3 separate regions of the Homo sapiens genome follow, and regions 1 and 2 are each linked to region 3. Evidence: fine-mapped expression QTL. A gene starts in region 3. Each other region holds a variant in brackets. All regions are shown on one strand. Distances are from middle to middle. Region 1 overlaps MROH2A (maestro heat like repeat family member 2A). Region 2 holds the start of UGT1A4 (UDP glucuronosyltransferase family 1 member A4). Region 3 holds the start of MROH2A (maestro heat like repeat family member 2A).

The links. PIP is the estimated chance that this variant, and not a neighbour inherited with it, causes the effect.
Region 1: its variant is the best candidate, but not a certain one, in a credible set for the expression of MROH2A in testis (GTEx, PIP 0.70).
Region 2: its variant is the best candidate, but not a certain one, in a credible set for the expression of MROH2A in lung (TOPMed, PIP 0.52).

Annotation. Positions count from the first base shown.
Region 1 is chr2:233,819,219-233,826,958 of GRCh38, reverse strand. MROH2A (maestro heat like repeat family member 2A) reads right to left here. Exons shown (of 42, transcript NM_001394639.1): 30 at 7,490-7,642; 31 at 6,903-7,057; 32 at 4,676-4,835; 33 at 4,403-4,596; 34 at 3,941-4,078; 35 at 3,295-3,403. Among named protein-coding and RNA genes, the nearest start is that of HJURP, 31 kb to the left of the region's middle. RefSeq lists an enhancer at 3,628-4,128. The variant T/C (reference allele first, on the strand shown) is at 3,288.
Region 2 is chr2:233,715,336-233,723,075 of GRCh38, reverse strand. All of the region lies in intron 1 of UGT1A8 (UDP glucuronosyltransferase family 1 member A8), which reads right to left. All of the region lies in intron 1 of UGT1A10 (UDP glucuronosyltransferase family 1 member A10), which reads right to left. The region is part of intron 1 of UGT1A9 (UDP glucuronosyltransferase family 1 member A9); the gene reads right to left. All of the region lies in intron 1 of UGT1A7 (UDP glucuronosyltransferase family 1 member A7), which reads right to left. It also overlaps UGT1A6, UGT1A5, UGT1A4, UGT1A and the pseudogene RPL17P11. The variant G/T (reference allele first, on the strand shown) is at 4,186.
Region 3 is chr2:233,775,029-233,782,768 of GRCh38, reverse strand. It overlaps MROH2A (maestro heat like repeat family member 2A), which reads right to left and starts at 4,439. Exons shown (of 42, transcript NM_001394639.1): 1 at 4,288-4,439; 2 at 3,317-3,424; 3 at 2,917-3,098. The coding sequence starts at 3,410.

The DNA of each region.
Region 1 (7,740 bases), 44 kb before region 3:
TTATTCGCTGCATGAGTGTCTTCTTTGAGAAGGGTCTGTTCATGTCCTTTGCCCACTTTCTAATAGGATTGTTTGTTTTTTTCTTGTAAATTTGTTTGAGTTCCTTGTAGATTCTGGATATTAGACCTTTTTTGAATGGATAAATTGCAAAGATTTTCTTCAACTCTGTAGGTTGCCTGTTCACTCTGATGATAGTCTCTTTTGCTGTGCAGAAGCTCCTTAGTTTAATTAGATCCCAATTGTCAATTTTTGCTTTTGTTGCAATTGCTGTTGGTGATTTTATCATGAAATGTTTGTCCATGCCCATGTCCTGAATGGTATTGCCTAGATTTTCTTCTAGGGTTTTTATAGTTTTGGGTTTTACATTTAAGTCTTTAATCCATCTTGAGTTAATTTTTGCATAATGTGTGAGAAAGGGGTCCAGTTTCAATTTTCTGCAAATGGATAGCCAGTTCTCCCAGCACTATTTTTTAAATATGGAATCCTTTCCCCATTGCTTGTTTTTGTCAGGTTTGTCCAAGATCAGTTGCCTGTAGATGTGCCATCTTATTTCTGAGTTCTCTATTCTGTTCCATTGGTCTGTGTATCTGTTTTTGTACCAGTACCATGCTGTTTTGGTTACTGTAGCCTTATAGTATAGTTTGAAGTCCAGTAGGGTGATGCCTCCAGCTTTGTTCTTTTTGCTTAGAATTGTCTTGGCTATACAGGCTGAATTCTACAAGAAATACAAAGAGGTGGTCGGGCGTGGTGGCTCACGCCTGTAATCCCAGCACTTTGGGAGGCCGAGGCGGGCAAATCACAAGGTCAAGAGATCGAGACCATCCTGGCCAACATGGTGAAACCCTATCTCTACTAAAAATACAAAAATTAGCTGGGTGTGGTGGCACATGCCTACAGTCCCAGCTACTCGAAAGGCTGAGGCAGGAGAATTGCTTGAACCCGGGAGGTGGAGGTTGCAGTGAGCTGAGATCACGCCATTGCACTCCAGCCTGGCGACAGAGCAAGACCCTGTCTCAAAAAAAAAAAAAAAAAAAAAAGGAAAAAGAAACACAAAGAGGTGTTTATACCATTTCTTCTGAAACTATTCCAAACCATTGAAAAGGAAGGACACCTCCCTAACTCATTCTATGAGGTCAGCATCATCCTGATACCAAAACCAGGCAGAGATACAACAAAAAAAAGAAAACTTCAGGCCAATATCCCTGATGAACATCGATGCAAAAATTCTCAATAAAATACTGGCAAACTGAATCCAGCAGCATATCAAAAAGCTCATCCACCACGATCAAGTAGCCTTCATTCCCAGGATGCAAGGCTAGTTCAACATATGTAAATCAATAAACGTAATTCATCACATAAACAGACCTAAAGACAAAACCACATGATTATCTCAATAGGTGCAGAAAAGGCCTTCAATAAAATTCAACATCCCTTCATGTTAAAAACTCCCAACAAACTAGGTATTGAAGTACCTCAAAATAATAAGAGCCATTTATGACAAACCCACAACCAATATCATACTGAATGGGCAAAAGCCGGAAGCATTCCCTTTGAAAATCGGCACAAGACAAGGATGCCCTCTCTCACCACTCCTACTCAACATAGTATTGGAAGTTCCGGCCAGGGCAATCAGGCAAGAGAAAGAAATAAAGCGTATTCAAATAGGAAGGGAGGAAGTAAAAATGTCTTTGTTTGCAGATGACATGATCCTATATCTAGAAAACCCCATTGTCTCAGCCCAAAAACTTCTTAAGCTGATAAACAACTTCAACAAAGTCTCAGGATACAAAATCAATCTGCAGAAGTCACAAGCATTCCTACACACTAACAACAGGCAAGCAGAGAGCCAAATCATGAACTCCCATTCACAATTGCTACAAAGAGAATAAAATACCTAGGAATATAGTTAACAAGGGAAGTGAGGGGCCTCTTCAAAGGAGAACTACAAACCTCTGCTCAAAGAAACCAGAGAGTACACAAACAAATGGAAAAATATTCCATGCTCATGGATAGGAAGAATCAGTATCATGCAAATGACCATACTGCCCAAAGTAATGTATAGATTCAATGCTATTCCCATTAAACTACCATTGACATTCTTCACAGAATTAGAAAAAAATTATTTTAAAATTCATATGGAACCAAAAAAGCTGAACCTAATTTTTAAACTGCCATAATTAGCTAGCATTTAATGAGCACTTACCTCCCAAGCAAGCAATGCATACACGGTCTATCTCATTTAGCTCTCACCAAAGCCCTGAAAAGAAGGCACTGCTTTCCCCAGTTGGGCAGATGGAGAGCTTGAAGCTCAGAGACGCTAAGTAACTTCATCTCCAGCCAATCAGCAACTGAGCGGAGGCTCTTAACCAGGCCCTCGGATTCCAGCACCTGCGCCTGGCCCTGTGTGGCTTCCAGCCGCTGAAAATTCCAAACTCAGGCACATCAAAGGACAGGTCCTGGGTGAGACAACGAGGGAGCACTTCTCCTTCCCATCCTCATTTTGAAGATTTACAGAGGCCTGAACACAGGGAGGGGCCTGAAGAACCTATAAAAGCTTGGTGAGTACCTCCCAGACTGGTCTTGTACTTCCAGGAGCTTTTGTACAGCCCACTGCCAAAACTCATTTTCCCATTTTTAAGTGTTGGGGAAAAGAAATATAGAAAAGAAAATTCTATGGCACATGAAAATTCCATGAAGTTTAAATTCCAGTGTCCATCAATAAGGTTTTGTTGACACCGTCATGCCCACTGGTTGACTTATTGGCTGTGGCTGTTTTCCTGCTACAGCTTAGTTGGCCACAAAGCCAAAAATTTACTCTGCAGTCCTTTACAGAAAACACTGGCCGGCCTCTGGCCTGGGCTGTGGTTGGTTCCTAGGGTGCATTGGGCATCATTGCCCTCAGGACGCTCCAACACTCACTCTGAGATAGGGTCGCTGGGCCCTGCCTTCCCACCTAGCAAAGCCCCTCGGCCTCTCTGAGTCCTCCTGCAGGAAGCCTGCCCCAGCGAGAACCCAGGTGCCCTCCCTGGGTCCCCTGGGTCACTGTACTTGCCTGGGTCACACATCAGTTAACTGCAATGCTGCAGGGCTCAGCCTGTCTTTCCAGCAGGGCCTGCCCTGCACTACTCATGTGATGAATGAATGAAGGAGCAGATGAGAGAATGAGCACTCAGAGGAGGGGCGCTCGCCTGTCCCCCCGACTCCCATGCCTTGGAGACAAGCCATCCCCAGAAGAATCCAGGGACCCCATCCCCTCCGCTTGCACCCCGCCCACACCCGGTGCCTCA[T/C]TTCCACGCAGACCGCTGTGCTGCTGATGCGGCAGCTCAGGACTTCTGAGTCCATGCCCCTGAGCACCAGCTCGGCCAGCCTCTGCCTGTGGCCCTCCACGTGCTGCATGCACAGCCTGCAGAGGAGAGACAGTGCCAGGTCGTGGAGGCGGCCCCACCCCTGCCTGACGTTTGCCAAGAGCTGGGCAGGGCCACATCGGTGCCTGGACCCTGGTGGCAAGATAACCCCGGAAAGATGTCGTAACATCTCTGGGTTTCTCCCTCCTCTTCCTGGGGACTTGGTTGAGGTTGTCAGTGAATCAGTCAATGTCTATCTCCTTTTTACAAAGGGGACTAGAGTGAGGGCGGCTCCGGAGTGACTAGGACCCCAGAAGTAACTCCCATCCCTGGCCTACTCTAGACCCTGTGTGGCCCTGGGGGCGAGCCCCTCCTCTTTCTGCCCTCATATCTGCTCTGAGCAGGAAGGGTTCGAATAAAAGGTTCTCATTCTCTTGCACACCACTGCCATCCTAGAGTCACAGGTTGGCGTGGCAGTTCCCCCAGAAAGAAGGCCTTCAGCCATGACTGGACCATGTCCTCACAAGGAGCCCTTCCATCCAGCAAGGAGGTGCCTCTGCAGGTCCCCCTGCCACCCTGTGGGAGCCAGGGCCCACCTGGCCAGCAGGCTCACACCCTCCAGGAATGTCCCGCCGTCCTGCAGGAGGTCCCACACTGCCTGCTCGTCCAGGGTATGTGCCAGGTGCTGGCTCTTGACTCTCTTGAACAAGAGCTGCATGGACTTGATAGTGACCCTGAAGGGAGGTGGGAGCTTGTGATGCGCTGCCCTGCTGGGAGCGCATGGCCTGGGGAGGCTGCTGCAATCTGTGAAGTGGGGCCCCAGTGCCTGCCGGGCCCAGCCCAAGGGACTGAGGGAAAGGTCCAGGGAGGGAGTGGATCTGCAAGCTCTGAAAACCACACCGTGCTTGACACACATGAGAACGGCATTTTGAGTAAGATCAGATCCCACCAGGAGGAGACAGAGGGCCCCTCACTGGAGTCCACTGGCAACTAAGGGGCAGCCCGTGGCTACAGCCAGCCCAGGCCTGCTGCCTTGCACCCACCGCCCTCGAGAGCACCTTTGCAGGTTCATCTCCTCCGGCAGAGGAGTGGTGTGGACCAGCTTCCACATCTTCAAGACCGGCGGGGCGGCCTCTGGTCGGTGGCTGCTTCCAAGCTGCAGCAGGAGGGTGTAGATGAGGTCAGGGAGGAAGTCCGGGAGCTTGTCATTCTCATCCAGCTTCTGAATGAGAAGGTGGATGGTGCACAGGGTCTGCAGAGAGAAGGTCCAGGGCATCGGGCTCCTACCCAGAGACCCCTGAGGAGCCTTGGGGCCTGCGCCTGCAACTCACCATCAGGGGGTCCACCGCAGCCAGGCGCCAGATGTCAGCCTTGGAGGTGGCACTGATTCTGGGGCTGAGCCGTGACTGCAGCCGGCCCATCAGGCTGTGGAGCATGGTCCGGGCGAAGGGCACGTTCTCCGACACTGCCAGCCACACCTCTGCCAGGTGGCTAACCAAAGTCAGGGCACAAGGACTGTGAGTTTCCTGGCATGTGCCCTGGCAGGTAAGAATCCCTTTCAAACCCTTGGCAGCCCCCTAAGTAGGGGTTGGACTCTGGGGACTGAATCTCAGGGAGGCGGAGGGAGCCGCCAAAATTTGCGTGCTTAGAACCCAGGCCCCTGACACTATACTCAACCCCCTTTCTCTGCACGGGCTCACGGTACCTTTGGGAAAGCCATGGCCCCCACGGAAGCCCCACCTCCACTGCTAGATGACCACAGAGACCCCCACCTGTTTGATGACTGTACGGACATGTCCCACAATACCTCCTAGTGCCCAATTTGCATCAGGTTGGTTGTCGGTAGCTTTCTGATATTATATCACCTAACCCTCCCAACACATCTTTGAGGAAGGTATTTTGTCTCCCTATTCCACAGAAGAGGGAAGTGAGGCTTGCAGCAGTCAGGCCACCTGCCAAACTACAGTTGGAAAAGGGCCTTCCTGGTTTCCAAGTCCAAGCCCATGGCCCTGCTGAGAAGGGATGTCCCCCAGGATAGGTACAGAGGCACAGAGAGCGGGGCATCTGGGAGGTTCTAAAAGGCTAATGTGAGTCTAACAAGTCTAAATGTAATTTAACAAGGTCAAGTTGAACAAAGAGATGTGTAAACTGACTATTGGAACCCACAAAACCAATGCACAAGAGCAGGGTGGTGAGTTTGGGTCTGAAGGGAGATGTGCCTGGGGGCCTGGGGGCAGGAGTAAATGGAGAGGGGGCAGAGTGCACTCATCAGCACCCTCTGTAAAGAAGCCATGGGGCGCAAGGAAACAAGAAGGGGCACCTCAGTCCTACAATGGCAAGAAGCAACTACGAACAATGACACAATCCTGGAAGACAACCCCAGGCTCTGGAATGCAGCCCAGCTGACACCCTCATCACAGGCTTGTGAGACCCTGAACAGAAAGCCCAGCTAACCCATGCCTTGACTCCTGAACCATGGAAATTGTGAGCTAATCCATGGATGTTGTTAGAAGCTTCTAAGTGGGTGATAATTTGTTATTCAGCAATAGCAAACCAATACAGATTTTGGCAAACTAAGTGAAAGCCAGTGTGACGTGGCCACCAAGTACGCCAGCCTGACCCAGGGCTGCACCGCACATCCCCCTTACCCCCACCCAGCACTGCCTCATGAGCCACTGAGCCTCATTAAATCATGACACCTGCACCACCCTCCCAGCTGGACCCACGGCAGGGCTGCCCTTATGAGAAGCAGCTCCACAGGGGAGTCATGCCTGCATTTCGGGCAGGTCAGCCCTTGTGGCTCTGGAGCCGGGGCCTATTTTTAAAACTCTTTTCTCTGTTCCAAGCCTCTTACTTAGCCTGACATCTCCTCACGTCCCTGCACCAGCACAGGCTCCACTGCTCTGGGGATGACTGTCTAGCTCTTTCTGGCTCCTCCCAGATGAATTCTGGTACCACCCCAAACAGACTCCCCACATGTGGGGAGACCATGCCCAGCTGCCTGTGCCATCATGCTGTAGCACACACAGGAGCTCTGCACTGTCTGCAGAGAAACACCAATAAAGATGGGGTGGCTCTGCATCACTCATGGCCACCTCTGGGGCTGGAGGTTGGGCCATTCTCCCCTTGGAGACTGGGACAAGTCGCTTCCCCTCTTAGGACACATTTTGAAAGAAATAGGGACAGCCTGGAATATATCCAGGGCTTGCTCATGCCTTGGAGCCGCACCCTGCAGCCCATCTGCTGGAGCTCTGTTCACAGGGAAGGAAAGGGCTACTCTGGGAGAGAATGAACTCCACAGACACTGTCCCGGGCATGTGGGGAGCTACGGGTCCAGATTCCAGCTCCATGTGGCGAAGTTCTACAAGCCTGGGCTCTGTCAGTGGCTCGTCGGAGGCTGGCACCTCCTGCAGGAGGTACAGGAAGAGGGCTTCGACCTCCTTCAGGGTGGGGCAGGGTACTGCCCAAGGCTCCAGGCTTCTGGGACACATCGGGGTGGTGAGTTGGGCATGGTCAAATGGCACAGGAGGCCGGGGCCACCTCCTCCAGGGCACCCACCTCTCCATGGGCAGTGGCTGCCTCAGGAGCGATGTGAGGATGGTCTCCTGGTGGTGGTGCGCCAGCAGCAGGATGCCGTCAATGAGAAGGCGCCGCACCTCTGGGTGGTCCACCACCGGCAGGTGCACCAGGATGGCACTCAGGATCTCGGCCACCTAGGTAGGGATGGGGCATCACCGGGGGGCAGCCCAGGCCCCTATGGCCTCCTGCACTAACCCCATGACATGCCCCTGCTCTAAGGGCTCTGGCCCAGTTGGACAATGGGGAGGTTAAGCGCCCAGCACCCTCTCTAGTGCATCCTCTGGTCTCTGCCTCAAACTCATTTTCCCAGGCTTTCAGTGCAGGAGGTGGTGTGCTCTGGGGAGGAGAACCTTGATCTCCAGGTCAGCGTGCACTTAACTAACGAGGCTACCTTCAACACGCTTCTTTCTAGCTCTAGAACTCTGTTTCCTCCTCCTCTTTAGCAGCCAGGGGTTGGGGGAGGCATTCTCAGCGAGTGCTGGTGAGGCCCTCGTCCTTCCCTCTCATCTGGGCACACCAGGCAGCCCCAGCCCCTCTCTCTGGTGGCCCTGCCGCGGCTCTGCCACCTTGTCCTCCAGCTCCTTGGCCCGCATCTGGAGGAAGAAGGCTATCCAGGTGACAGAGGCCTTGTCATGCTGCAGGTTCATGGCCCCAGTGTTCTCGCAGAGCTTCTGGATGAGCGAGACCACCTCATCGCAGCTAAACTCCATGCAGACCACCTAGGAGCAGAGCGGGTGACTCCCCTGCCCTCCCCTGCCACTCCATGACTGCTGACACTCTCTCCTCCCCTGTCCCACCCCATGGCCCCACTCCAGGC
Region 2 (7,740 bases), 60 kb after region 3:
ATGATATATTTCCATAAAGTTACACCGAGTGTGCCTGCCTCTCCCGCTGGCCCTTCCACCTTCTCATCCTCTTCTGCCTCTGCCACGCTGAGACAGCAGGACCAATCCCTCCCCTTCCTCCTCCTCCTCAGCCCACTCAGCATGGAGACAATGAGGATGAAGACCTTTATGATGATCCACTTCCACTTAATGAGCAATAAATTTATTTTTTCCTTCAAAAAAAAAAAAAAGAAACATTCTTATTATAATACAAAATAACTTGAAAAAATAAGAGGGAGATGACTACAAAATTATTAACAATATCAGAATTAGGTAACAGCCTTATAGACAGTCACTGCATCAAAGGAGAAATTTAAAAACTGATATTTAAATTATCTAAAAGCAATGAAAAGAACAGCAATTTTTACCAAAACCTAAGTAAAAGAAATCTTTTACTCGAGCCCTCAATGCTTCATTAAGAAAAATCAAATGTAAAGAAGTGTAATAGTCCTCTAACGAAGTTGCAAAAGCAGCTACAAATCAACCAAAAGAAACTAGGATGAAATCATTAAGGCAAAAATAAGCTGCAATTAACGAAACGGAAAATGAAACAGTGAAAAGAATATACAAATTCCACAGTTATTTCTTTGAGAAGACCAATCAAATAATTCAACCTATCCATAAACTTTAAATCAAGGAGAAAGAGAGGGAGAAGAAACGTAAGATTTCAACTTTAGTCTTGTATATTTGTAGAAAAATTTCAAATCTAAGGGTCAACCAAACCAAGTAAGTAAGGGTGACAAAATAACAAAGGAAATCAATGTAATAAAAATGATAATGGCGTGTCTGTCACAGATAATACATGATAAAGATTTTGGTGTAAATGATCTTTCATGCACTCAGTAAATTGGCACGAACATGGCAAAGGTCTCCAGGTGACACATCTTGTCCTGCAGGAGTCTTAAACTCTACTAATGATGATGATAGCTCTTCCTCTAAGAGGCCTAAGGTGATCTGTGAAAATTCTTCTTTATTCACTTGACCCAGAAACACCACAAAATCATGCAATTCAAGAGGTTTCAGTTTTCCTGTTCACTTAAAGGACATTCGTGAAACTACCCAGGCCATCAATGTATGCATATACAAAGAGCCACCAAGTGTCTGAAGGATGTCACTTTATGGAAGCAGTGTGCACCATTTCGATATTGCAATGGAGGGGCTGGCAAGTGTGCCCAGGGCCGAGCAGTGGGGCTGGACACAAGGTCGGTGGCCCAAATAGGGTGCTGGATTTTTGCTGCATGTGCTTTAAAATGCAGAGAATAATGCTAAATATAACAATTTAGATGTAGATTCTCTCATCATTAAGCTTATCCAAGTAAACAAAGCATCCAAGATGAGCCATGCGTCTTGCAGAGCTCATTATTGGATTAACCCTTACATGACCCCCCACTGCCACATTCAAGATGATCTTTACTGATAAGGAACAAATTGTTCCTAAACCTGAGGATGAGGTTGCACAGAAGAAAAAGATATCCCAGAAGAAACTGAAGAAAAAATTTACCTATGGCTCTGGAAGAAATTCAGCATAAAATAAATGCAATTAAACTAAAATAATAAGAATGATAACAGATAATATTTATTGGGTGCTCACTATAACAACATTAAAACCACAATGCTTAGGGTACCTGTCCTAGGTCACATAGCTAGAAAAATGAGAGTGAAGATTTGAGCCAGTGCAGTTCAGTCTAAAGAATATATTCATAGTGAAAAACCACAAGAAAAGAGCCACAATCACTATTCAAATGCCTTCCTAATTTTCCACATTTTTACAAAGCTAAAGAACATATATATTTTTTACAATTCAGTAACTACATTGCATAAGGGGAAAAGAAAACCAGTAGAACAAATATCTTGTGGTTTGATCAAAAACAAAAATAAAGTTTAGTGTCCTTTGCAATAATACCTACACTAATAAAAAGAAGTACAGAAATAAGAATACAAAGGACCTAAACTCATGGAAGTTCATATAAATTCAGTGAATATGACAAAAAAGGGCTCAATTCTCTCACAAGAAAGATGGCTCCCTCACTGGGCTTGGTGGCTCTTGCCTGTAATCCCAGCACTTTGGGAGGCCGAGGCGGGCAGATCACATGAGGTCAGGAGTTCAAGACCAGCCTGGCTAACATTGCGAAACCTCATCTCTACTAAAAAAAAAAAAAAAAAAATTGCCAGGAGCAGTGGCACATGCCTGCAGTCCCAGTTACTCAGGAGACTGAGGTGGGAGAATTTCTTAAACCCGGGAGGTGAAGGTTGCAGTGAGCGGAGATCCGGCCACTGCCCTCCAGCCTGGGCGACAGAACGAGGCTCAGTCTCAAGAAAAAAAAAAAAAAAAGGATGGCTCCCTTAATGGATTTAGAAACCAAATTCATTGGTGTGTGAATTTGGTTTTTCACATCCCAGAGTACTATTTCAATGAAACCCAAATATTCTGTATTAATGAAAGTCACCTCTGAAATTTTTGGAAAAAGAATAGATCCCACTATAGAAACTTGGAGTGGGATAGGGTGAGTTTGGTGATATGATCAGCTTCACCTGAGAAACACTTCCCTTCTTGGACACATGTCCATTCATCACTGGTCCCAGCTTCACTGGGCTTATAGATTCACGGTCTTATCTCCTCCCTAGTCCCTTCCACCCACTCTTGATAATTTCAGCATTCCAAGTAGAAGACCCTTTTGACATGCAACCATCACCATACCTTCCAAACTCTACGATGTCCCCACATCATACACCAGACCCCCAACTCCTGGTCAGAAAAACTTTTCTCAGGACAGATCCCTCTCTGGAAACTGAACTCCATGTTTCATTCTCTGATCACATGCATCCATCCCACCTTCACAGCCCCACTTCCACTCAACTGAGTCAACCTCTTTGACACTTCTACTTCCTGTGAGTGCCTAGGTCTCCTGTGGTCACCTCTGTATCTTTCGCAAGATGGGACCACTAAAAATTATCATGTCCACAATTCTAATTTACTGTTGCATCACCGTTCAGCTGAAAATCAGGCAAGCAAAAACCCCAGGATGGATCAGTTCTGAATGTAGTGTCCCTGATCCTGCCGAGCTGAAGGACATGCACAACCATGAAGATGGTGCCTTTACAAACACTGTCCGTGAGTCACAGCAGTCCTTGTCCATCCTCTGACAGACCCTCATCCGTGCCTCTTCTTCCTCTCAGTGACCACTGAAAACTTGAAATACACTAGGCCCCTCAACAGTTTATCTGTTATAAAGAAGCCAAAATAAAATCTTTGGAAAGATAAGTAGATATGGAAGCACTTGTAAGTAAATACATTTTTTAAAAAGTGTTTTGCCTGGAACATTGATTGGATGAAGGCACCAATACAGACCTGAGATAGTGGCTTCCCGTTGGCACAGTTGATGCCCCCAATGAAGACCATGTTGGGCATGATCGGCCTGGGGTAGTCCATCACAAAGTCCCCTCGGAACAGCCACACGGATGCATAGCTGACAAGATCCACCACTGACACCTCTCTCTGAAAAAGCTCAGAGGCAAGACTTGCATAAGGGGCAGAAAAAGTATGGCAAATGTAGGACAGGGCCAGAGGGTAGAGCATGTTCTTGACCCTTTGCAGGAATGTCATGTGGTCTGAATTGGTCGTTAGTAACTTAGGAATATAGGAGGAAGGATTTGGACACTGTGTGCCCTTAAAGTCTAAGTCACATGGAATGTACCTCCAAAAAAACACAGCAGGAATCGACAGGTACTTAGCCAGCACCGCCCCACAGAGGTTAACGGGGTCTGTTAAAACCACATCAAAGGAAGTAGCATTCAGGTGCCTGATCAGGGCCTCATTATGCAGTAGCTCCACACAACACCTATGAAGGGCCAAAGATACATTGTTCATAATTGCCATACTTCTAGAATATCTCTTCAGAAGATGTTCTGTTTCAAAGAACCCTTGAGTGTAGCCCAGCGTAACGCGATCAAATTCCTTCTGGGTCCATGGAACAGCATAGGCTGTCAGGGTGAAAAATTTCTCTTCTTTGATGTGCATATTCACCTCTGGGGTGAGGACCACCGCCTGGTGGCCTCTGGCATGGAGCTCCCGCAAGGCCTCCCGCATGCTGAGCCAGGGGCTGCCATCAGTGGGCACCACCAACACCTTTCCACTCTCAGCCCAGG[G/T]CTGGACACTGAGGAGGAGCAGCAGTCCTGTGGCCAGCCGCGGCAGGGGAACCTGGAGTCCTCTGGCCATCTCAGCAGAAGCCACCGACAGCTGACTGTCCACCCCACGCTGTGCCTGCTACATTTGTTTCCTTCGCCTTAATTACCTTGTCATTGAGCCACCTAGCAAATCAGCATGTAATTGGAAGACAAAGTGCCCTCCTCCAGTTACTTATTACCCATTAATCTATAACTGCCTTTCGTTATGGGCCCAACCCTGGGAAAGACCAATCACGCCTATCTTGAAAAGCTCATCTGACCCTGTGCTGCCTCTGGGGAACATCCAAGTTCAAGCTCTTCTTTCTCATTCAATTCCCAACACAAGGCTGTGGACACCCATTTCATGTCACTGCCTTCTACTCTGTTAACCATATTTATCAGGCTGCAGCTGAGGTCTGAGGAGTCACCATTGCCCTAGTCCCCAACCACATGTTCTCTGCTGAATGTGACGCTATTTGCTAACCCTTGAAACTCTTTCTTCTCATATGTGAATAACACAGCACATCCAAAAGACATACAACATTGCTAAGCCAGCTTTCTCTAAACAGAGAGTGTTCAGGCTGGCTATCTGGTTTTGGTCTTTTTTCACACCAGGATATTTCTTGTAAAGCTCAAAGAGGACTCTCTCTGAAGTGGCTGTCAATATAAAAAAAAGCTCCGGGGAGGCTGAGCTCAAGATGTGATGATCATATTCTTGGGAAGGCTTTATTGAGGATTCTCCATCTACACCATGGAATAAGAGGTGCTGCTGTCTAAAGCACACATGGGCAAGACAACCCTAGCAAGGACCCACGGTGGGTTCAGGGAGCTCCTGCTCACCAAAGGACCTGGGGAGCTGGAGCCTGGCCTCAGATCTTGCACAGTCTGAATTCCTCTTCTGAATGCCAAAGGCTCCAGTCTTCTGCAAGTCTGCATAGAGACTGAAGTATCCATTCATCCAGGCCTTTATTTCATCCTGAAGATTATGGCCAGGCTTTTCTCCAAGTCAATCCAGCACCAAGTTCTGATAAGAATGGTTCCTCCAGAACAGAACGGGCTGCATAATTTGTGGGGGCACTACTTCAAATTTCAAAATGGAGAATTAAATGTGTGCCTTTCTAGGGGGAGACCCTGAGCACTCACAATGGTCTCATGCCCATGAGGCTCGTCCTGCTCCAGAAAGTCACTCCTACATGTGCTCGCAAGATTGCTGATGCTTCCTTGTCCTGGTCGCCCCAGGATGAGGTGGGCAGGCTCTCTGGGCTGTGCCCACTTTCCATCTCACTACCTCTGTGTCTACATGCCTGGCCATGTCTGCCATTGCTGGTGAGGCTGAGGCTTCCCTTATGGAGGAAGTTACTCCCATTAGAAATCCACATTGATAACAGATTCCACCTTTGGACACAACCCATGGGACAGGCAGTGAATGGATGCGTCCATCAGAGGGACACCCAGCTCAAGGGAGGCATATGCAGGATGGCACAGAGAGGGCAGGTCTGTAAGGGCTTGAGAACTCCCCAGGGGAGGACGATTTCTGGGGATTTGTGAGGACACAGAGTGCTAGAAAGGGATTCTCAGCTGTGGGTGCAACATCTCAGCTTCTCAACTATTCCTCCAACCCCCTTAAAACTGTCTGCATCTTAAGAACCCTCCTGATGAGCCCGGGGTGAGGGTGGAACATGCCTGGGAGGGTGCTCTTGCCACATTCAAGGGGCTCCCATGTTCTATTTCCATGTAGTGGTGTTCTATTTCCATGTAGTGGTGTTTTATTTAGATAGTGATGTCATCTGATTTCTGGTTACGTGTCTGGCACTCCTAGACCCTGCGGAGGCCCATGTATCTTGGAAGATGGTGGTGCCTTCAGAGACATAGGGGCCCTGAGGACAGCAGGACTGTGGGGAGGGAGAAGCTCACATTCCTGGTGCCTGGGAAATAGGAGGAGCTGCCCAAGGCATCAGCTTCCAGGGTCTGGAGATGAGGAGGGGTCTGGGCTGCACAGATAGACTTGGAGCCATCAGCATATGTGGTAGCTGAAGCCATGGGTGTCAGTGAGGTCACCCCAGCAACGTCCAGAGACAGAAAAAGGCATCCCGAAAGCCTGACCTGAGTGATCTAGCTCCCCTCTCCCAATCTCACAGAGCTAAACATATAAACTGGAACTCTTTAGTGTTTTTAAGAGAATGTAGAAACTATATCTTGGGGTAAACAAAGCTTCCTTAGGGTACAAAAAGTACAAACGATAAAAACTTCACTAGAATAAACCTCATCAAATTCTAAAATTTTTGCTCTTTGAAAGTATTGTTTTTAAAAAATGAAAAAAGGAATATAAGGAGAGAAAGGAGATAATTGAATGGTAAGCTGAGAGCTCTGAAGCCTGGAGAATAGAAGACTACGGAGGACAGAAACAAAAATTAAATTTAAATGGCCAAATGAAGGAAAACCTCCAAGTTTTGAATAAGATGTGGGTTTCACTTTAAGCTTAGTGTCTGTGGTAGGCAGAATCACAGCCCCACAAAGTATCTACATTGTAGTTGCGCAAACCTGGGAATATATTCCATTACAGGTGGAAGAGACTTTATAGATGTGATTATATTAAGGGTTTTGACATGGGGAGATTATGCTGGATGTCCGGGCAGGACAATGTAATCACAAGGGCTCTTGCAAGTGAAAGAGACAGATGTAAGAATTAGAGACTTGAAGATGCTGCACTGCATCTCCATGGAAATGGAAAAGGGCCATGGAATTCCAAAACTAAGATGGAAAAACTAAATTTCTGTTAAAGGAATGAGCTTACACTCAGTGGAAAGAATACAACTAAGAATGGACAGAATCAGAATGCTGACATCAAAAGAAACTATCAGATTAAAGTCATTTTGGGTTTTGTTGTGTTTTAAATCAATCAATCAGTCAATCAGTCAGTCAGTCAACAAACCACAAGAGCTGAAACTCCTGAGCTCAATGATCCTCCCACCTGAGCCTCCCAAGTAGCTGGGGCCACAGGCACAAGCTACTGCACCCAGCTTTTCATATTGGAGTTTTAAAAAAATGTTTTCTAACTTTAAAACAAGATTTTCACATTCCAAATAAATTTTTATTTTTTTGAGATGGGTCCTCGCTCTGTCACTCAGGCTGGAGTGAGGTGGCGTGAACATGGCACACTGCAGCCTCCACCTCCTGGGATCAAGTGATCCTCCTGCCTCAGCCTCCCGAGTAGCTGGGACCACAGGTGTGCACCATCACACCTGGATAATTTTTTAATTTTTTGTAGAGATGGAGTCTCAGCATGTTGCCCAGGCTGCTCTCAGACTCCTGGGCTCAAGCAATCCTCCTCCCTCGGTCTCCCAAAGGGCTGAAATTACAGGTGTGAGCTACCCACTTGCACACAAATCATTTTCAAATTAAAAGAGATGGGGAATTCAAAAAATAACATAGGAGTCACATTACTGATATCAGATAAAATGTATTTTAAGGATTATTATTTAATGATAACAGCAAACTGTGAAGAAAATATAAGTCTCAAACCTCAAACCTACATGC
Region 3 (7,740 bases):
TTTACCACTGCTCTTCAACATAATACTGGAAGTCCTGGCCAGAGCAGTTAGGCAAGAGAAAGAAACAAAGGGCATACAAAATAGAAAGGAAGAAGTCAAATTATCCTTGTTCACAGATGACACGATCTCATACTAGAAAAATACAAAGACTCCATCCAAAAACTGTTAGAACTGATAAATAAATTTAGTTAAGTTGCAGATTACAAAATTAACATACAAAAATCAGTAACATTAGTATATGCCAAATGGCAAACAACAGAACACTTCACCCATTTTGAAAAAGAAACCAAGAAATCCATTTCATTTACAATAGCCACAAAAATATAAAATACCTAGGAATAAATTTAACCAAAGAAGTGAAAGATCTATGCAAGGGAAACTATAAAACACTGATGAAAAGAATTGAAGAAGACACCAAAAAATGGAAAGCTATTTCATGCTCACTGATAGAAAAATTAATATTATCAAAATACTACCAGAAGCAATTTAGAGATTCATTGAAATCTCTATCAAAATACCAATGACATTCTTTACAGACAATTTTTACATGGAACCATAAGACTCCAAACAGACAAACCAATCCTGAGCAAAAAGAGTAAAGCTGGAGGCATCATACTACCTGATTTCAAAATATACTTTAAAGCCATAGTAACCAAAATAGCATGGTACTGGCATAAAAACATGCACATAGACCAATGGAACAGAATAGAGAGCCCAGATGTCAATCCATGCATTTACAGTCAACTCATTTTTGACAAAGGTGCTAGGCACATATAATGGTGAAAGGACAGTCTCTTCAATAAATGGTGCTGGGAAAACTGGATAACCATATGCAGAAGAATGAAACTAAACCCCTATCTCTCACCATATGCAAAAATCAAATCAAAATGGATTAAAGACTTAAATCCAAGACCTGAAACTATGAAACTACTAGAAAATAATCATTGGGGAAATGCTCCAGGAAATTGGTTTGTGCAAAGATTTTTTGTGTGAGACCTCAAAAGCACAGGCAACAAAAGCAAAAATAGACAAATGGGATTATGTCAAGCAAAAAACTTATGCACAGCAAAGGAAACAGTGAACAAAGCGAAGAGACAACCCACAGAATAGGAGAATATCTCTCCATCCTACAAGGGATTAATAACCAGAATACACAAGGAGCTCAAACAACTCAATAGCAAAAAAATCAAATTTAAAAATGGGCAAAAGATCTGAACAGACATTTCTCAAAAGAAGGCATACAAGTGGCCAACAGGGATATAAAAAAATGCTCAACCTCACTAATCATCAGAGAAATGCAAATCAAAACCACAATGAGATATTATCTCACTCCAGTTAAAAAGACTTTTATCCAAAATATAGAAAATAACAGATGCTAGCAAGGATGTGGAGAAAGGGGAAACCTCACACATTGTTGGTAAGACTATAAATTAGTACAGCCATTATGGAAAACTCTATGGAGGTTTCTCAAAAAAAGTAAAACTAGATTTACCGTATGATCCAGCAATTCTACTACTGGGTGTGTATCCAAAAGAAAGGAAGTCAATATATCTAAGAGATAGCTGCATTTTCATGTTTATTGCAGTACTATTCACAATAGCCAAGATATGGAATCAACGTAAGTACCCATCAATGTATGAAGGGATAAAGAAAATGTGGTATACACAGACAACGGAATATTATTCAACCATAAAAAAAAGAAACCCTGTCATTTACCGTAACATGAATAAAACTGGAGGACATTATGTCAAGTGAAATGAGTCAGGCACAGATAGATAAATACCACATGTTCTCACTCATATATGGGAGCTATAAAAATGGTGAGCTCATAGAAGTCAAGAGTAGAATTTCGGTATTAGGGTATGGGAAAGGTAAGGGCAGGGGAGGATAGGGAGAAGTTGATTAAAAGATACAAAATTACAGCTGGAGAGAAGGAATAAGCTCTTGTGTTCTATAGCACTGTAGGTTGTGAATATAGTCAACAATGATTGATTGTATATTTTCAAAAAACTAGAAGAAACAGTTTTGAATGCTTGCAACACAAAGAAATGATAAATGTTTGCAGTGTTGGATATACTAATTACCCTGATTCGGTCATTACACATTGTATATATGTTTTGAAATATCACTTTGTATTCTATAAATATGTACAATTGTTATGTGTCAACTAAAAATAAAAGGGGGAAAACGCAAATGCAAATCCAAATCCAACAAAAATAATAAAACTTTTTATAAATAAGCTCCTCTGCTCATAGCACCCCTTTGCTACCCACTCCAAGACAAAAGGGTAGTCTAAAATCCAACAGTTCTCAAAGTAGGCTCTCCAGATCAGCCTTGGCATCACCTGGGAACTTGTTAGAAATGCTGATTCTCAGGCTCCACCCCAGACTTACTGAATCAGAAACTCTGGGGGTGGTGCCCAGCAAGGTTTGGATCAGCTCTGTTCCAAACCCTTGTCTAGTCCAAAACCTTGTCTGGTACCACGTGATGCAAACCTTGTCTGTACAAGCCCACCAGGTCCCCTGGTTGCACTTTGTATCACTCCCTCCAACATCCTCTACCCCAGCCCCTTAACCCAGCTAGGCATCTCCCCACTAGCCAAACATCCCTGCACACTGTGTCTGGTGTATCTTTACTCTCCCATGCCCACTGGCTCAACATCTTTGCAACTCAGCTCATGTGCTGTAGGACAATGGCTCCCAAACCCACTGTGTCAGAAGACAAGGGAACTTTTAAAAATTATGAACATCTCAGGTCCCAATTGGTCCTCAGGGAGTAAGCACCTCACAGTCTTGCCCATCTCTGTATCCCAGTACCACACATCACATCTCTGATAGTCAGTAACTATGTGCTGGGTGGTGGATGGATGCACACAGAGCTAAAGGTGGCTGAGCCCAGTGGGTAAGATGGCCCTACCTCTGGCACCTGCAGGCAGCGGATGAGAGTGTTTATCACTACAGAAGGCTCAGTGGTGGCCTTCTCCATGATTATCACCGAGGCCAGGGTCTTCCGCATGTCAAGGCCTGCCCCTGTTGTGTCCGTCTTTGCTGACTCGCTGTCAATGATGTCCAGAAGGTTCACGACTTGTTGAAAGGTACCTATGAAAACAAACGCCACCCAGGTGCAGTGTGGAAATGACCATGACAGGAGGTGCCCTTGTGTCCCTGGCCTTGCCTCCACCTGCGCAGCTCCAGCTTCATGTGTGGTATGATGTCCACTGTGCAGATGGAGAAAGGGAGACCTAGGCTGGGGCTGCAGTCAAAGAGTTAGTGTCTGAGATGGGGCAGGAAAGCAGAAATGTGGATGACATTCTTACCACTGTCATGTAATTCAAGAGGCCCCAGGTCGTCTCTTTCCTCTGACACCTCCTCACTTGAGGCTACTGCTGCTTCTGTAATGGCTTCAGTCATCTCTTCCTCAAGCTCTTTTGAGATCAACAGAATTTGTAAAATACGGGGTGTGACACACACCTTAAGATGACCCCAACGACCCACACCCTTCCATAAAGCCATCCCCTTGAGGGTGTGTGGGTGGAACCTGTGACTTCCTTCTAATCAACAGAATATGGCAAAGGTGATGGGTGACCCTCTCTCGAGTGGATTACATCATATGGCAAAGATGGTGGGATGTCATTCCCATGATCACACTATGCCACATGAGATTCCCTCTTATCAGATTGAACAGAAACATTCTACTGGCCTTGAAAAGTAAACAGCCATGATGCAAACTGCCTGTGGTGAGGGCCACGTAGCAAGGAACTGAGGGCCTCAGTCCTACAACCATAAGAAACTGAATTCTCCAATAAGCACATGAGCTTGGAAGAGGAAGCTGAACTCCAGAAAGGACTGCAGTCTCTGAGACCCTAAACAAAGGACCAAGGAAAGCCATGCCTAGACTCCTGGCCAGTGGAACCGTGAGATAATCAATGGATGTTCTTTTAAGCCACTGAGTTTATGATAATTTGTTACACAGCAATAGATAATATCCTTAGTTTAATAGAGCCCTCTCGCCCTCTCTTCTACACACTGATAATTAATGGCTAATGAGAAATTCATATCAGTATCTCTCATAACTCCTTTAAGGGGTTCTCTCAACATCCACAGCTTCTTAAAAATTGAGAAACACCAACATAGATGTCGAGATGGTGGAAGAAAGGCTCTCAGATCCTTTCTCCTCCTGTCCCAAGTTCCTTGATCCTCAAAGATCCATCCCATGGCCCTTTACTATCCCATACTCTCTTTTCCTTTAAAGGATTTTAAAGAGCTACTCTGGGACCTAAATACTGACCTTTCCTTAGGGTCTTCTTCTGGATTAAACAGATATTAACCACAAGAAAAAGCTCTGCTCTTGGCCCAATACACATCAATGGAAATGCAAATGGAAGAATTGGTTATCAAAGTGAGACAGCTGGGCTCTTCAGTCATATTTCTTATAGGAATGGGTCTCCTGGAAGGGTGGGAGGGTTTCACTAGAACTATCACCGTTAGATCCCAGACCCTCGGAACTTTGAGATCCAACTGCCTCCCTGAGTCTCTATCAACCCAGGTCTTTGAAGAGTGCACAGGGCTCTGGGGTGAAAACTCCACATCATGTTGTCATTCAACATTTCTGTTATTCACATGTGTGTGCTGAAGTACAGGGGCCTGTTTGGGAAAGGGAGATGGTAGAAGTGGGGATGGCTTACAACCAAGTCCCAGGGGAACACAGTCATGTGAGCCCTGGGTGGGGAGGTGTGGTCAGGACAGTTGGAGAGGAGAGGAGGGGCAGACTGAGAGGCCCTGGGGAGAGCACTCCTCCTTCCCGGGGACTGGATGACTTGCAGGATAAGAAATTGGATTTCCACTAGCACAATACTTACAAGATAAAGAACATCAAAGACAGGTAGGAGAGGAGGCACCCTGATTTCCTAAACCAAAAGTGGAGCCCAAAGGATTTCCCTGTCATTTATAGCTAGGAGAGATGATCCAGATCATAGGTACAACAATGAAATATTGGCCTTTGGGAAATCTTTCTATGCACTGCAAGACAACAGGAACAAAACTCAGAGACATCTAGGGCCAAGGTTGCTTAAGTGGAATTTCCACTCCAAGTTTGCCCATCCAGCCAAATGGGAGTTCCTCAGCCTGTGCTTGGACACCTCCAATACGAGGGAGCTCATTACTCTCAGGACCAGCCTCTTTCTACTTCATGGAATTCAGATGGTTAGAAAATGAGCTTTCTTATCATGCCCAACATTTCTTCCTCATAAAATTCCTGCGTTATTCCTTGTTCTGCACTTGGAGATACATTGATCAACATGAAATAGACACAAGCAGCTATCCCATGCCCCTTCTTTCACAGGACTGCCCCTCTGCACTACCTCCTCCCACTCCCCACTGAGCCTTCTTTTCCGTTTGAAAGATCACTGAGGTGATGTGGTTGCCAAGTCCATTCCACAGGCCCAGACTGCACGCCTACTGTGTGCAGCTAAGCATGGCTTTCCATGCTGCAGTGGATATAGGGTAGGTGGAACACATCTCTGTCCTCTGAAGGTCTTCAGACTCAACACATGAAAAGTGATACATTTAGAGCCAGAAGTGAATGTGTCAGCAATTGCTGTGTAACAAACCACCTCAAAACTTAATGACTGAAAACAACCGATTATTATAGTTCACAAGTGTATGAGTCACCTGCGTGGGTCTGTGGATCTGTGCTCTGTCCAGCCAAGCACAACTAGAGTCTCACCCATGTATCTCAGACAGCTAGAGGGCTGGCCATTGGCTCGCTATTGGCTGAAATGACTAGGGTGATGGGGACATTGTGCAGCAGGGCTCACCCAGGCTGTTCTCATAGCAGCTGGACAGGGTTCTGAGACAGTGAGCGGGAATATGAAGGCTTCTTGAGGCCTAGACTTGAAACCAGTGCTCATCACCTGCCACACTCTGTCAGCCAGGGCAGGTCACAGGCCAGCCAGGACCCACAGGCTGGAGAAATAGATTCCTCCTTTTCATGAGAAGAGTTGCAAAGTCACATTGTGAAGGATATGGCAATCAGGAGGAGTGGAGAAAGGGGTCATTTTTAAATTACACACAGGTCGAGTGTGTAAGCCATGGCCAAAAGTAAGAGGCCCCTGAGCATGTTATCTACAGAGGACATGAAGACAGTGAGACCAAGGAGGAAGAAGGGGGCTCTGCTTGGCTTTCCAAATTGAAAATACTTTTTTTCATGGGGAAACGCTGTCTCTACTAAAAAATACAAAAATTAGCCGGGTGTGGTGGGGTGGCATGTGCCTGTAATCCCAGCTACTCAGGAGGGTGAGGTAGGAAGAATCACTTGAACCCAGGAGGCGGAGGTTGCAGTGAGCCAAGATCACACCACTGCACTCCAGCCTGGGCAACAGAGTGAGACTCCGTCTCAAAAAAAAAAAAAAAAAAAGTAAATACATTTTTTTCTGATTATGACAACAATATTGAACTCACAATCCACTCACAAAATCAGCTTCTCTTAGGTGCTGTCACTCTATGGCACGTTGCACCACTACTTCTATGGGAACTACCCAGGAAATAAGAAAACGCTTTATTCGTAGCATCCTGTGAGCTTAAATACACAAAAGGCCCAAGACATAATGTGGGAAAATGGAAATATTGTGCAGAAGCTGACTGTATTAGTCCATTTTCATACTGCTATGAAGAAATACCCAGGACTGGGTAATTTATAAAGAAAAAGAGGTTTCATGGACTCACAGTTCCACATGGCTGGGGAGGCCTCACAATCATGGCAGAAGGTGAAGGAGGAGCAAGGGCACATCTTACATGGTGGCAGGCAAGAGGAAGTATGAGCAAGAGGGGGAAAAGCCCCCTATAAAACCATCAGATCTTGTGAGAACTCACTATCACACAAATAGCATGGAGATAACTGCCCCCATAATTCAAATCACTTCCCACCAGGTCCCTCTAATGACACATGGGGGTAATGGGAATTACAATTCAAGATGAGATTTGGGTGGGGACACAGCCAAACCATATGACTCACCCAGAGGCAGTCTCTACAGGGTGGATTCTGCCCGGCTCACAAGGTTCCCTCTCCCGTGGCCCAAGCAGCCACAGCAATGGGATGGTGGGAGCCATGTTTTTCTCTCCGTAATCCCTCTCGGCATTGATGATTGGACAGGGAGAGGACACCTGATCCAGCTGGACCAATCAGATTCTGACTTTCAGGAAGGTGGCACTCCAGGCCAGAGAGAATCCAGTCTGTCTCTTGTGGGATCTTGGGAGCTAGGGCAGAGGAATATGGGGACTGAGGGGCCGAAAAGACCCGGAGGAGAGGGAAGAGGAAAGCTGGCACTCTGACCCAACAGGGACAGGAGTGAGAAGGGGAGGCTCCACCCAGCGCAGGCCTGGCTATGAGCCTCGCGTCGTCAGAAGCCTGTCTCCTTACAAAAATACTGTTTATGCTTAAGGTATCCCGAGTTGGGTTCTCTCACTTGTAAACAAGAGTGCCTCAGTGCTGCAGACACGAAGGTGCAAATGAACATGAGCTGGCTGGAGGTCATGGCAACTTGGGGTCCCTGAGAGAGGTTGGGGCGTCAAGGAGCTAGGGGCAGTGAGGCCGGGAGATGGTCCCCGGGTGGACCAGGAAGGGCTTTGAAGGAGGGTGAACGTAGTTGAGGGGTGACTGCACAGCCTCAAGGATGTAGAGAGGGAAATAGTGGACAGAATGTGTTCCAGCCACTGCCTAGGGAAGGAGATGGAGCTGGGGTCA